4 linked regions of the Homo sapiens genome follow. The protein of the gene in region 2 purifies or fractionates together with the protein of the main gene of each other region. This does not show direct contact. Each region holds a gene or a part of one and is shown on either strand. Other genes may lie near its edges.

What was found. The genes of interacting proteins can lie anywhere in the genome.
Region 1: the proteins of UBLCP1 (region 2) and PEX7 purify together in Homo sapiens (co-immunoprecipitation; one large-scale study listed by IntAct). This does not show direct contact.
Region 3: the proteins of UBLCP1 (region 2) and SNRNP27 purify together in Homo sapiens (co-immunoprecipitation; one large-scale study listed by IntAct). This does not show direct contact.
Region 4: the proteins of UBLCP1 (region 2) and PSMD14 purify together in Homo sapiens (affinity purification with mass spectrometry; 2 studies listed by BioGRID and IntAct, with this or other methods). This does not show direct contact.

The regions. Positions count from the first base shown.
Region 1 is NC_000006.12:136,909,592-136,912,012, reverse strand, and holds part of PEX7 (peroxisomal biogenesis factor 7), read right to left. Parts: intron 1-2,421. UniProt on the Homo sapiens protein: Receptor required for the peroxisomal import of proteins containing a C-terminal PTS2-type peroxisomal targeting signal. Specifically binds to cargo proteins containing a PTS2 peroxisomal targeting signal in the cytosol.
Region 2 is NC_000005.10:159,273,290-159,276,789, reverse strand, and holds part of UBLCP1 (ubiquitin-like domain-containing CTD phosphatase 1), read right to left. Parts: intron 2,206-3,500; coding exon 2,168-2,205; intron 1,643-2,167; coding exon 1,544-1,642; intron 1-1,543. UniProt on the Homo sapiens protein: Dephosphorylates 26S nuclear proteasomes, thereby decreasing their proteolytic activity. Recruited to the 19S regulatory particle of the 26S proteasome through its interaction with 19S component PSMD2/RPN1.
Region 3 is NC_000002.12:69,896,956-69,900,455, reverse strand, and holds part of SNRNP27 (U4/U6.U5 small nuclear ribonucleoprotein 27 kDa protein), read right to left. Parts: intron 3,080-3,500; coding exon 3,000-3,079; intron 1-2,999. UniProt on the Homo sapiens protein: May play a role in mRNA splicing.
Region 4 is NC_000002.12:161,367,425-161,370,924, reverse strand, and holds part of PSMD14 (26S proteasome non-ATPase regulatory subunit 14), read right to left. Parts: intron 3,448-3,500; coding exon 3,376-3,447; intron 3,142-3,375; coding exon 3,022-3,141; intron 819-3,021; coding exon 748-818; intron 1-747. UniProt on the Homo sapiens protein: Component of the 26S proteasome, a multiprotein complex involved in the ATP-dependent degradation of ubiquitinated proteins.

The DNA of each region.
Region 1 (2,421 bases), on a different chromosome or scaffold from region 2:
AATGACAATGAGATACCACCATATATTCACATTATGGCTAAAATTAAAGATTGACAACACCAAATGTCAGCAGGGATGTGGAACAGCTGTGATCACATACATTGCTGGTAGGGAAGGTATATGGTACCACCATTTTGGAAAACAATTTGGCCGTTTCTTACCAAGTTAAACACATACCTATCTTTTGACCCAGTAATTCCACTCCCAGATATTTGTCCAAGAAAAATGAAAACATATGTTTGCAAAACAATGTAGACACGAATGTTCATAGCAACTTCATTCACGATAGCAAAAAATCGAAAACAAGGCTGGGCAAAGTGGTTCATACCTGTAATCCCAGCATTTTAGGAGGCTGAGGCAGATGGATCACCTCAGGTCAGGAGTTTGAGACCAGCCTGGGCACCATGGTGAAACCCCACCTCTACCTAAAATACATAAAATGAGCCAGGTGTGGTGGTGTGCACCTGTAATCCCAGCTACTAGGGAGGCTGAGGTGGGAGAATCGCTTCAACCTGGGAGGCAGAGGTTGCAGTGAGCCGAGATCATGCCACTGCACTCCAGCCTAGGCAACAGAGTGAGACTCTGTCTAAAAAAAAAGGAAAACAACCAAAATACCCACTAACAAAAGAATCGGTAACAAATTGTAGTAAATTCATACAACAGCATGTGCTCAGCAAAACAAAGGGAGGAATTGCTAACAGGCTCAGTACCACGGGTGAAGCTCACAGGTAAGAGGCCAGAAACAAGTGAGGACATACAGAAGAGTTCCTTATAGAATTCTAAGACAGGCAAAACTCATCTAAGGTAAACAAACAAACAAACAAAAAGTCAGAACAATGTTACTCTTCTCACCTGGAGGGAAGGGTGGGGATAGGGGAGATTGGAAAGGGGTAAAAAGGAAACTGGGGGCTTTCCCAGTTTCCAATAACTGGGATGATGTGAATTTCACAGACGTATCTATTTGTCAAAAATGTATATCTAAGATTTGTAAATTTCAATATATGTGAATTATACCTAAAAATAGTAAAAATAATGTTAGCGATAACTAAACGATGTGTGAGAGTACAGGAATAAATAAAATAAGAATGTTGATAGTTGTTCAAGCTAAGTAATGAAGTTCGTTATCTGATTCTGTTACTTTGTATGTTTTCAAAATTTTCCACAATTTAAAAAAAAGAAGAAAAGAAACAAGGTAGGCAGTAAAATGAAAGATGAAGTAGCAAGAGAGTGCTTTTGACCAAAAGTATTTGCACTCCATTTCCCAGCCTTTCATGCTTATTACAAAGGCTGAAAATTACACAAGAGAAACCTCGTTTTGACTAATGTAATTTCTTGGCTATCACTAATTTTGAATAGTGATAGCCAATCATTCACTACCAATATTCTGAGATCAGAATCCAAGCTACAGAGAGCATTATAGACTTTTTAGTCAAACTTTTAAATTTAAAAACCTCACTCTTCAAGATCTGGTTGTTCCCATTTCATTTCTCATTGCACCGGGCTCACACCTCAAATCCAAGCATGCTGCTTATGCCTCTTCGCTCTTGTTCCTTTACTGATCGCTTCCCTTTAATAACTCCTCTTCTCCCTCCCTTTCTGTCTGCTCCTCTGTCCCCTTTGCCTTGCTCTGCCAGAGATGTCTCTTTTTTAAAAAATCAGTTTAGGTATCATCTCCTCTATGAAGTCATTCATTGTACCCATAATACTTGATTGTACTTATTTTCCCAACTGAAGACAAAGAGTTGTCTTCAGCTCTTTGAGGGCATGGACCATGTCTTATTAGAACATAACTCAATGAATATTGGCTCAACAAATTAATTTCATAGATTACAATTTCAGAGGTTAACTCTGTCCTCATGTTCACAATAGAGTAGCAGAGCTACAGCCAGAACCTAAACCTGTTGAATGTATCCACTAAAACAGTGCCTCATAGAAAAGGCAAACTGAAAACCATTATTTGCCTAATCTTGCAGTTTTCAGTTTTTATACCATAGGACACAAAGATCATTATGTTAAATTACCCCTGTCTCATCTATGCCTATTTTTTTCAAGTGCTGGGCCTTCCCACATGTTAAGCATCCGCTACTGGAGAGAAGAGAATCAGAGAAATAAGACTTAGGTTTCTAGTGCAAGGTATCTATAAATTATGTTTCTGAAACCTTATTCGGCACTCTCCAATCCAGCTTCTTATTTATTCAGGACTTATAATAACTACCAAATGTCAAGGCCACTGATTCAGCAAATGTTCATAAATCTATACTTAATTGGATTAAGATAGATCTAAAACTGCAATGATATAGAATTATGAATAGATTAATTCAAATTGATGAAAATAGTATTCCTCTATTTGTTAATTAAGCCCTATCTGGTTCTACAAATTTAAGCAAGCTAACAATAAAGAAAATAATAATAAGGTAAGAA
Region 2 (3,500 bases):
TTGTTAAATTAAGGGTAATCCTGAACCAAACAAAGGTTAAGAACTATTTTCTAACGGCTTACAACAGTGTTCTCTAAAATACTTCTTTCACTTAAATGTGTCATGAAAATTTCTAAATCATTACATATCCTACTACATCAAATGACGAGCTACAGTCCCTTATATGGGTAGCAGTAATTTATATATCCAATGCCCTATTGCTGGATATTGAGGATTATTTTTATTCCTTTAATTTTTCACTGTTATAAAACATGTTTAACATTTCCCTAAGTAATTTTTAATGTTAAGATTTTGTAAATGTATTATTTTACTTTAGTATATAGTAAGTTATCTTTTTCTCGATACATGCAGTATTTCCTTTATAGAACAAGTCCCCATGCCCTTAAATCATTCTATTTATGGTTTTGATAATTTTAATACTGTCTCCCCTAAGGTTTCCTCGTATCCTAAGTTCTCCTCAATTCCTATTAGTTTGGGTGCTTTTATTTTACTTTATTTTGTTGAGACAGAATCTTGCTCTGTCACCCAGGCTGGAGTGCAGTGGCTCAATCTTAGCTCACTGCAACCACCGCCCCCTGGGTTTGAGCAATTCTCCTGCCTCAGCCTCCTGAGTAGCTGGGATTACAGGCATGCATTATCCAGCCCAGCTAACAGTTTGGGTGCTTTCAAATGATATGGACTGTGTCTCACTCATCTCTTTATTCCCAACAGTGCCTATCACAGGGCCTTCCAGACAGTAGATACTTAATAGTATGAGTAGTTACTTGATGAGTAAAATAACTGGTTAGCCAAACCCTTTTCTCTGATTGTTCTTGTTGCTATTCTTCAGCATCATCCCAAAGTACATGCATCATGATGCATCTGCTTTTATTACCAGTTTCAAACAGGGCAGGGTGAGTGTTTTCGCTTGTTTCTAGTATCTTCCTTGATAATATTCAGTATTTTTCTCACCTACTCTGCCCAGTAACATTGTGCTGTCATCAACACAGGTCAATTACCCACAATCACAAGTTCCTTTCTTGACAGTCCTACTTCAAGATCCCTAATTTTATCATTAAAATTCAAATCTTTTAACCTTGGCTGGGCACAGTGGCTCACGCCCATAATCCCAGCACTTTGGGAGGCCGAGGCAGGCGGATCACGAGGTCAGGAGATCGAGACCATCCTGGCTAACAACAGTGAAACTCCGTCTCTACTGAAAATACGAAAAAATTAGCCGGGCGTGGTGGCGGGTGCCTGTAGTCCCAGCTACTCAGGAGGCTGAGGCAGGAGAATGGCGTGAACCTGGGAGGCGGAGCTTGCGTGAGCGAGATTGCACCACTGCACTCCAGCCTGGGCGGCACAATGAGACTCCATCTCAAAAAAAAAAAAAAAAAAAAAAAAAAATCTTTTAACCTTAAATACATTTTCCTATGTCAAAACTCAACCACTTTATTATTCACTCAGATGAATCTCTACACTATTTACTCCATAGGTATAAACATAAAAAGTACACTGGAAAATAACCATGGTGTCATTAAATAGAAATAAAATGACTTCTTACGTCTATTAATCCTCTCCTTGGAGTATGTACTGTTATCATAGCAGCACTATCCAACATGAAAGTAATCTTATAATTTGCATTTGTGCTCACTCCCAGCTCCTATAAACACAAATATTTGTGAGGTTAAAACATAGTAGTGTGGAAAATTTCAGATTTTCTGAATATTCTAGCTGCAATTTCTCATAATGCCAACTTTCTACACCACTGGCCACTACATCTTGCTAAACAACTAGGAAGTATTTTAGTTTCACTTAGCCAAGTCAATAAATGGTAAACCAAGGAAAATAGAAATAGATTACTTCCTAATTTACCATTTTAGGAGAATACTGACTCTTTAAGTATTGCACACTAGAGCAAAAGAAGGAAAATAAAGTATTATTGTAAAATGAGGAAGAATGTGGGGGAGGGGACAAGCTTAGTTATACTTTTTCTTAAAAAAGACTTAGGGATTCAGTACAATCCACTTATTAAACACACTTTAAAAACACCTCTACTCCCAATAATGGCATTTATCTATCTACTAAGTGCCCTCCAGTAAGAATAAAATTAATTCAGTTCTAGAACTTTTAACAAGACAAATGCAGTTTGAAAATATTTTTAAATGGATTGCTTTCTAACACTTACTTTCATTTTAGCTTCAATCCACTTCATATTTGTTGCAGCTAAAACACGAGGAATGATAATACAATACATATGAAAAGCTTGAATTTCTTTAAAAAAAATCTGTATAAGTAAGTTTTCTAAGCAAAACTAAAAGTTTAAATGCATCAGAATTAACAGTCCCTAGCATACTTATGGTAATTTTCTTTTAAATATTGATAAAAGTAAACTTACTGCAGTGTGTCTTCAAGACAGAATAAATTTTAAACAACTTTTATCTGTAAGATACAGGTAATCCATGCTCAAAAGAACTCTGAACCTAGGAAATTTATAAATCAAGACCTAAACTCTCTTTTTAAATCAGCCCTGACACTCTATCAATTCCAAACTTAAACTTGGGTGCCTGGATCACTTTTTTCCATGTTCCTACTTCTAGGCAATGCACAGGTATACATAGTGTCAATATAAGCATATTGTTATGTGTCAAAAGTTTATGTTGAAAACCAGCTAGTCAGGTTCAGTGAAAATCTGCATTTTGTCAGTCTCAGCAAATTAAAGCTCACTGAGTCTAGCAGCTTCTAACAAGAAATGAGACAAATTCATGAAGTATACCTGCATCATGTATCTGCTCATTGTCAGACATTAACCAGCTTTGAGATCATTAATACTAAAATTAAATCCTCATCTTTATGTGCTCTCCTGGTTTACTGGACTAAACTATACAGGTATAACCAAGTAAAATGTTTAAAAAGAGAAAAAGCAATTTAATTATTTGAAGTGTGTGTGTGTGTGTGTGTGTGTGTGTGTGTGTGATTTTTAAAAGCAAAAGAGGAACCTGAGTTCTCAAAATAAAAAATCTTCAGCATGCACACATACAAAAAAACAGAAGAATCACCTTACACGTACAAAACTGGTCAGTTGAGCTAAAATTTTAAAGACTATTGTATCTCCAATGAAAATAATCATAAGATAGAAAAAAATTTTAATCCGGTACTTACTTTGTATCTGTAATTATCAGACGAAAAACAAAAAGACCCACAGCTAATAAAAAGTTTCTAATTATTAAGTAACTATATGTCAGACATAGTACTAGTTGCTATATTGATACTTCTATTCTTACAACTAACCTGTAATATGTATTTAGATATCTTCATTTCTCAAGTGAGGGAACTAAGGCTCAGAAAGATTAAGTGACCTGTCCAGTGTCACACAGTAAGAACAGAGCCAGAATTAAAATCCTAGTCTATTTAGCTCCAAAGTGAAGTACTCTTTTCAATGAACTACCACAAAATATCACAGTTTATAAAAATAATTTAAATATACTATTGTAAAAGGTTCTCAAATTTTATAAGTCTAG
Region 3 (3,500 bases), on a different chromosome or scaffold from region 2:
TGAGGTATATGATTTTGAACTCCCTATAATAGGAAGTAAGCATGACTTAGAAAGACTGGTCTTGGGCACAAAAAAGTAAATGATGATAACCTTTTTACAAAGTTCGATTCCTAAAGGTTTACTGATTTCTGGAAACTATTTGCAGAATTGCATATTATTAGCCCTATCCTCATTTATTTACATGCTGGCATAGAAAATTATCCATTAATAAACAAAACCAAACTTTGAAACCATCTAGAAAAATGTTATTGAAGTAATTGCAGTTTTAGCCATTATTTTCAATGGCAAAAACTGTAATTACTTTTCCACCAATCTAATAAGATGAAAGGGAAAAGCCAAGCACATTGCTGTGAGGCTACAGTCCCAGCTACTTGGGAGGCTGGGGCAAGAGGATTTCTTGAGCCAAGGAGTTTGAGTACAGCCTGGACAACATAGGAAGACTCTGTCTCTTCAAAAATAAAAAAAAAAAAATGGACTGAGGCAGGAGGATTTCTTGAGGCCATGAGTTCAAGACCAATCTAGGCAGCACAGCAAGACCCTATCTCTGCAAAAAATAAAAACATTATCCTGGCGTGGCGGCATGTGCCTACTCTCAGCTACTCCAGAGGCTAAGGCAGGGAAATTGCTTCAGCCCAGGAGGTCAGGCTGCAGTGAGCCATGATCATACCACTGTACTCCAGTATGGGTGGCAAAACAAGACCCTGTCTCTAAAAAACTAAAAAATGAGGCCGGGCGCAATGTCTCACGCCTGTAATCCTAGCACTTTGGGAGGCCAAGGCAGGTGGATCCCTTCAGGCCAAGAGTTCGAGACCAGCCTGGCCAATATGGCGAAACCCCATCTCTACTAAAAATACGAAAATTAGCCAGGCGTGGTGGCAGGCGCCTGTAATCCCAGCAACTTGGGAGGCCAAGGCAGGAGAATCGGTTGAACCCAGGAGGCGGAGGTAGCAGTGAGCCGAGATTGCGCCGCTGCACTCCAGCCTGGACAACAGAGCGAGACTCTGTCTCGAAAAAATAAAATTAAAATAAAAAATAATACAAATAAAAAAATGAAAATACAATCAAATAGAAAGGAAAATGGGTGACTATACTGGCATATGAAGAGGTCCCACAATAGATCAATGATGAAACATCACAAGACACACATTACTTAAAAACACAAATGAGCTGACGTTATAACTGATAGCCATGAAGCCAACTGCATATAAACTAAATTGACATCCTTGTAGATGTCATTTTAAAAAACTGACATCAATTAGTGTGATGGTACTCCATAATTTTTTTAAGATCTATGACTTTTCACCTAAGTTTTCCTTTATAAGCAAACATCTTCTTCACTGACTACATTTAAGTGATGGGTGGCACCACCCTTAGATCTGACTTTCAGGAACTTTAAACCTAACATCCAGCAACAGGAAAACCAAAAAACAAAGAAAATAATTCCATTTTCTTTGGGGAAAAAGTTCCCTCCCCATTCTTCTAAAGACAATAAAACTATAGTTGCTTTACTTTTGACATATTTTAATTCACCCAACATATATCTTAATAAACTTACATTTCACCCAACATATATCTTAATAAACTTTCATTTATAAAATAGTCTTTGGAAAATAAATAAGAATTTAGGGCATTCAAGGGAAAAAAGCTGATAAATAAACTTCATTAAATTCCAAAACAGAGCTCACATAACCATTGCAAGAACAAGAGCTTGTTCTTAATTTCTCACCTCAAAACAGTCATGCCTCAGTACTCCTAAGTTACACACTGTCATTTTAAAACATGTGAGCCCTACACAGTCACATTAGTTAGAAAGAAACTTACAGCCACTGAGATTACCCCATTCCATTAGCAACTCAATGGAATACAAGACTTGGGAAAGTGGATTATTTTTGACAACTTTTTCTCAAACATCTCTATTTCCATTTGCAAAACTAAATGGAAAGACTTAAAATTCTAGAAAAGAGATTTTAAAAAATATGTTTTTCTTTCCACACACCCTCCCTCTCTCCATCCCCTCTCCTCTCTTCATTTCCTCTCTCTATACCCATCTCTCTCTTCCCCCATCTCTCGCTCTATGCTCTCCCTCCTCTATATAATCCCTCCCTCTTTTTCCTCTTCCCTCATCTCTCTGCTATTATGAAGGCTAGACAGCATTCCCTCCCCTATCCACCCCACTTCTAAGCTATGAGACAAGTATGCAGCTGCCCAATGTCATCTCTATCTGGCAGCTGGATTTTGTTCTTCCATTTCCCAGCAGTTCCCCTTCCAGAAACTCTGTTCTGGGTTAACTGTATCACTCAGGGTCCCAGCCTGACACCTGAGAGGCATTACTAACTACTCACTCCCACTTCCCCCAGCTCCTGAATCATTCTCAACTCAGTTCAGGCCTTTATCATCTTTCACTTGCACAAATCAGCAGTTCTCCCTGCCTTCAATCTAACCCACCTCCCATCTGTCCTCCATGCTGCCCCCAGAGTCATTATTCCAAAACACACATATAACCATGCCACTCCCTTATTTAAAAATCACTACTTCCTCTCCTCAACACCAAAAGAATAAACTCTGAATTCCTTAGCATGACTAAGGGCATCAAAAGCCCTCTGTGATTTGCCTCCTACCTCTATTTCTAGCCTAAGTCACTAGCCCATCAGCACCCCTTTATCCCTGGTCGAATCTGAAATTCCCACAATACACTATGCTCCTTTACACCTACATGGCATTTTCATGAGCTCTTCCCTCTACCTGAAATAATCTTCTTCCTCTTCTTTGTCTGATCACTTCTACTTGTCCTTTAAAATCTAATTCAAACATCGTCCCTGGCAACCACTCCCTGAATTCCAATGGCAGTTCACTGTTTCCTCCTTTGTATTCTCAAAGCCCTTCAAACAGATAGTTATTGTCTTATAACCAAATAAATTTGTATAAATGGAAAAGAACATGGAAAGATAGGACAGTCATAACATATTAATTCAAATGAGAATGTTGCACGTTTTACTTACTTTTGTGGAGTCAAAGGAGGCAAATCCCATTAACTTCATCATTTCTATTTCTTCCTCTGTTTTGCCCTCTAAGTCTTCCTCTGCAAAAAAGAATAATTTTGTGACCTCTCTATCATTTCAAATATATACATAAATAAAAAGAGAGGTGGTAACAGATTAATAGTCATTCCACCTCACTAGCAGAGAACACACAAAACAATTAGCTGAAGATGAGTCTAATGAAAAAATTCCTCTTACATTTGGACAGAATGTAACTTATGGTACAAAAAAAAAGTCCTCTCCTTGAAGCCTTTAGACAGGATTACCTTTTAAAAAAAAACCTGGGTTTCATATTAAGGACTACCTTTAATATCAGGCATGACACTATATAGTTCTGAAGACACTTCCAAAATAGAATATTCTCATGTTTTTAACTATCGTTCTATATCAGGAGCACCATAGATAACCAGCAACTTGCTAGGGTGCAATTAAAACAAAATCTCAGGCTGGGCACGGTGGTTC
Region 4 (3,500 bases), on a different chromosome or scaffold from region 2:
TTTTCACCTTGTTACCACAGTTTCTCAGAGCCAGTTTTTACCCTTTCAGCATTCAAGTAAATATCTACTCTTTAACTCCTTAGCTCTGGGAGTTGGATTTTCCAGGCACAGAGTACATTTTTAACAATGGACACCAGGATCCACTGTTGTGAAAGGATTAAATATCAATTAAACCAGCAGTAGAACTAGGAACTCAGTCAAAAACCAATTTGCACTGTTCTGCTCAGCTGCTGAGCCTTTTGCTAACATTAATTTTGAAGTTGTTTCCACAGCAGAAGAATTTGAGCAAGAGAATGACAACTATTGAGAGATTTGGTCTGAGGAAAAAACTTTAGAATATTTGGATTATACTTTCTCTGTCTTTAAAACTATGCCTACAAACATAATTAAATATTCATAATCTCATTCAGTTGCAACTCTCAAATACATGGAACATACAAGCTCTTTCAATTATAAGTGACTAGACAGTAACTCCATATGCTAAACAGAGGGAAGCTACAGCCCAAGCTTACTATGTGACAGTCAAGAATTTTAACATGAGGCAGTTCTCTGATGGGCAAATTTCTCTGGTTCTAAAGGGAAGATATACTAGACAGGTGGTGCATGGCACTGATATTTACAGATACTTTTATGTCAATTACATAACCACTTTTTCTAGAAATGACATTGATAAACATCTATAACTTTGAGGTATGTTTCTATAAATATTTCCCATTATTTCTTTAACTGATCATTTAAAATGCTTACCTTCCTGTCTGCTTCAACATATCCAACATTTTAGCTTGGAACACTGGATCAACTGCCTCCACACTGACACCCTGATTTAGAAAGAAAGAAAAATTATTAATTTTTGTAAATTTGGAAAAAAAGCTTCCCTATGTATATTATTTGGGGTTGCCAAAATCATTTTATAGGTTTTGATACCTACATTTGATACCTACTCAAGTCATTCAATTATAAACCTCATACCAATCAAGCTTCTAAAATTGCCAACTACCAAACTGCTGTTGGCGATCGAGTTAAGCCCACTTTCAGGATTCTTTAAGAGTATATGGCCATTGCTGTGTATATGTTTACCAGAAATACGAAATAATTGAACCAACCATAACTATTGGTTAGACCTATTTAGGCAAGCATACTTCCTAATGCCATCCTATCATAACTGATGACTAAAATGAGCCTCATCCAAAGTTCTACAAATATTCAGCTATCATAATGAAACAGCCTCAAGTCTCTTACATACAGCATTATTTTGCTAGTTCAACCAAAATAAGATATTTGAACAGGAAGAATTAAAAGGTTCAGATCATCTCTCTGGCGATAGAGTACTGTCTTTATAGCTCCCAAGGCTTTCTTCTAACCTCAGGAATCTAAATCTAATGTACTTAAAGAAACTAGTTAACATAAGCACTTCCTTCCCACCAAAACAAACAGTATGCATATTGAATTCCAACAGAGAGTACATCCTCAAGAACAGGGGTATGCAATCTGCTGCTTATAGGCTAAGAATGTTTTCGGTTTTTTTCTTTCTTTTCATATATATACTTTAAAAGGACTGTCTTAAAAAAGAAGAAGAATATGCAACAGAGACATATGTCTTTATAGAAAAAGTTTACTGACTCTGGGGTCAGAAGAAAAACTTTCTAATTCTATGACACTAGAAAATAGAATTAGAGTGAATATAGGGATCAAAATCTTTTATTTTATATTGTCAAACAAGCATTTACATGGAAGTAATGATATTAAAGCCTAAGAACAATGTATTATAATGGGTATCTACATAAGTACCCATAACATATATAAGTTAGTTTTATGTGTTTCATGTAGCCTAATATAAAAAGACAGATACAAGTAATAAATAGTCTAAGATTTAAATCTAAACCTTTGGTTAACATGTAGAGTGTTTCTCTATTTCCAAATGTATAAAATAAATATAATGGATATCAAGATGGATAAAATCAGTAGATCCAAATTAGTTTACCTCAACAAATTCATCTATTTAGAGAAAACTTTACATTATTTTAAATATATTGCATTCTGTAGCAAATATTCTATTTTAAATGCTTATTTTTAATATACATACTATATATATTACAGTACTTAAAATTGTAATTTGTTCTCCAGCATCTACCTTATCAAAGTAAACTTACAGAACTTCGAATAGAACTAACAGCTTTATAACAACAATTTCTTTAATCCTTCTTTTACAAGGCTCAGTAAGAGAAATATTGCCTAGCAAAGAAGAAATATCGCTTGGAAAAATACATGCATATTTTTCTAAGCAAACAGGTGAGAAGGATATATGTGCTTTTTTTGGAAGGTAGATGGAATGGTTATTGTTTTTTGGCTATTTTCTTTCAGTCAAAATGCACATCTATCAACACAAGTCTAATGCATCAAACAAAAAGGCAAAACAAAACAAACATCTCTAGAAAGAATAATGTATTCTATACAGGTAATTTGTATGGAGTACGGTGCATATAAACAAAATACCATGCCTGGGAAAAAAATATTCAGGTTTGCTATTGTTTTGTTTTGCTTTAACTTAACATTTTAAATAAGAAAAGCTTAAAAAGTCATTCATCACCATATATAGAACATTTTTTAAATGACATATTTCAAAACAATGGGAACAAGACATAAGAACCAGTATATGTGAGTTGAAAATCTAAATTAAGAGAATCTCAAATCTTTTGAACACTTGGTTCAAAATCAAACTAACACTCTGCTATTATAGGGTAAGTAACTTTTAAATCCAGTATTTTACACCAGTTTAAGCCGAAGGACTGAGAAAAGAAATTTAGCATTAGCATCATTCAGTTTGTAGACCTATAAGAAGTTATGCTGCGTTTTAAAGATTAATGATTTAATTCAATACAATCTAAAAATTTCTATCAAACTTATGATTAATTTTTCCTACTGGAAAGAGAAAATGTAATATGATGAGAGTTAGTTTGCATAGGAAAAGAAAAATGAAAAGAAACACATTTACTTGCAGCAGGCAACCATAAAAGTACTCACTGTTCCTGACTGTGGCATAGCAAACACATCAATCACTCTGACGGTATAATCATCAACAAATTCTCCAAGCATCAAACCCATAACTTCCATTGGAACTCCAGCACGGCCATGTTTTAACATCTGTAGAAAGGAAGAGATGTGGACACAAAGCAAATTTCGTTGAGGTCTCTGGTTCTTCTTTATAAAACAAAAACCAAATTTTGTTCCAGTGAAAATAAAAACTCCTTTTATAAATGTACCTAAAACAATAGCTTATTTATGTCTGAGAGGATTAAGGTGACAAATATTCCAAAGTAAAAGATACAGTGAAAGCAACAGAGTTCTCTAAAGCAAGTAACTACATTCATTACCTACTTTTAACAGTGCCAGGGAAGAGATATAGACTTGTTCTGCTGTGTCCACTGCAGGAGCATCTGTAGGTGGCCCCTAGAAACAAATACATCAATTATTATTAAAACAAACACAGAGTTTATGAGTTT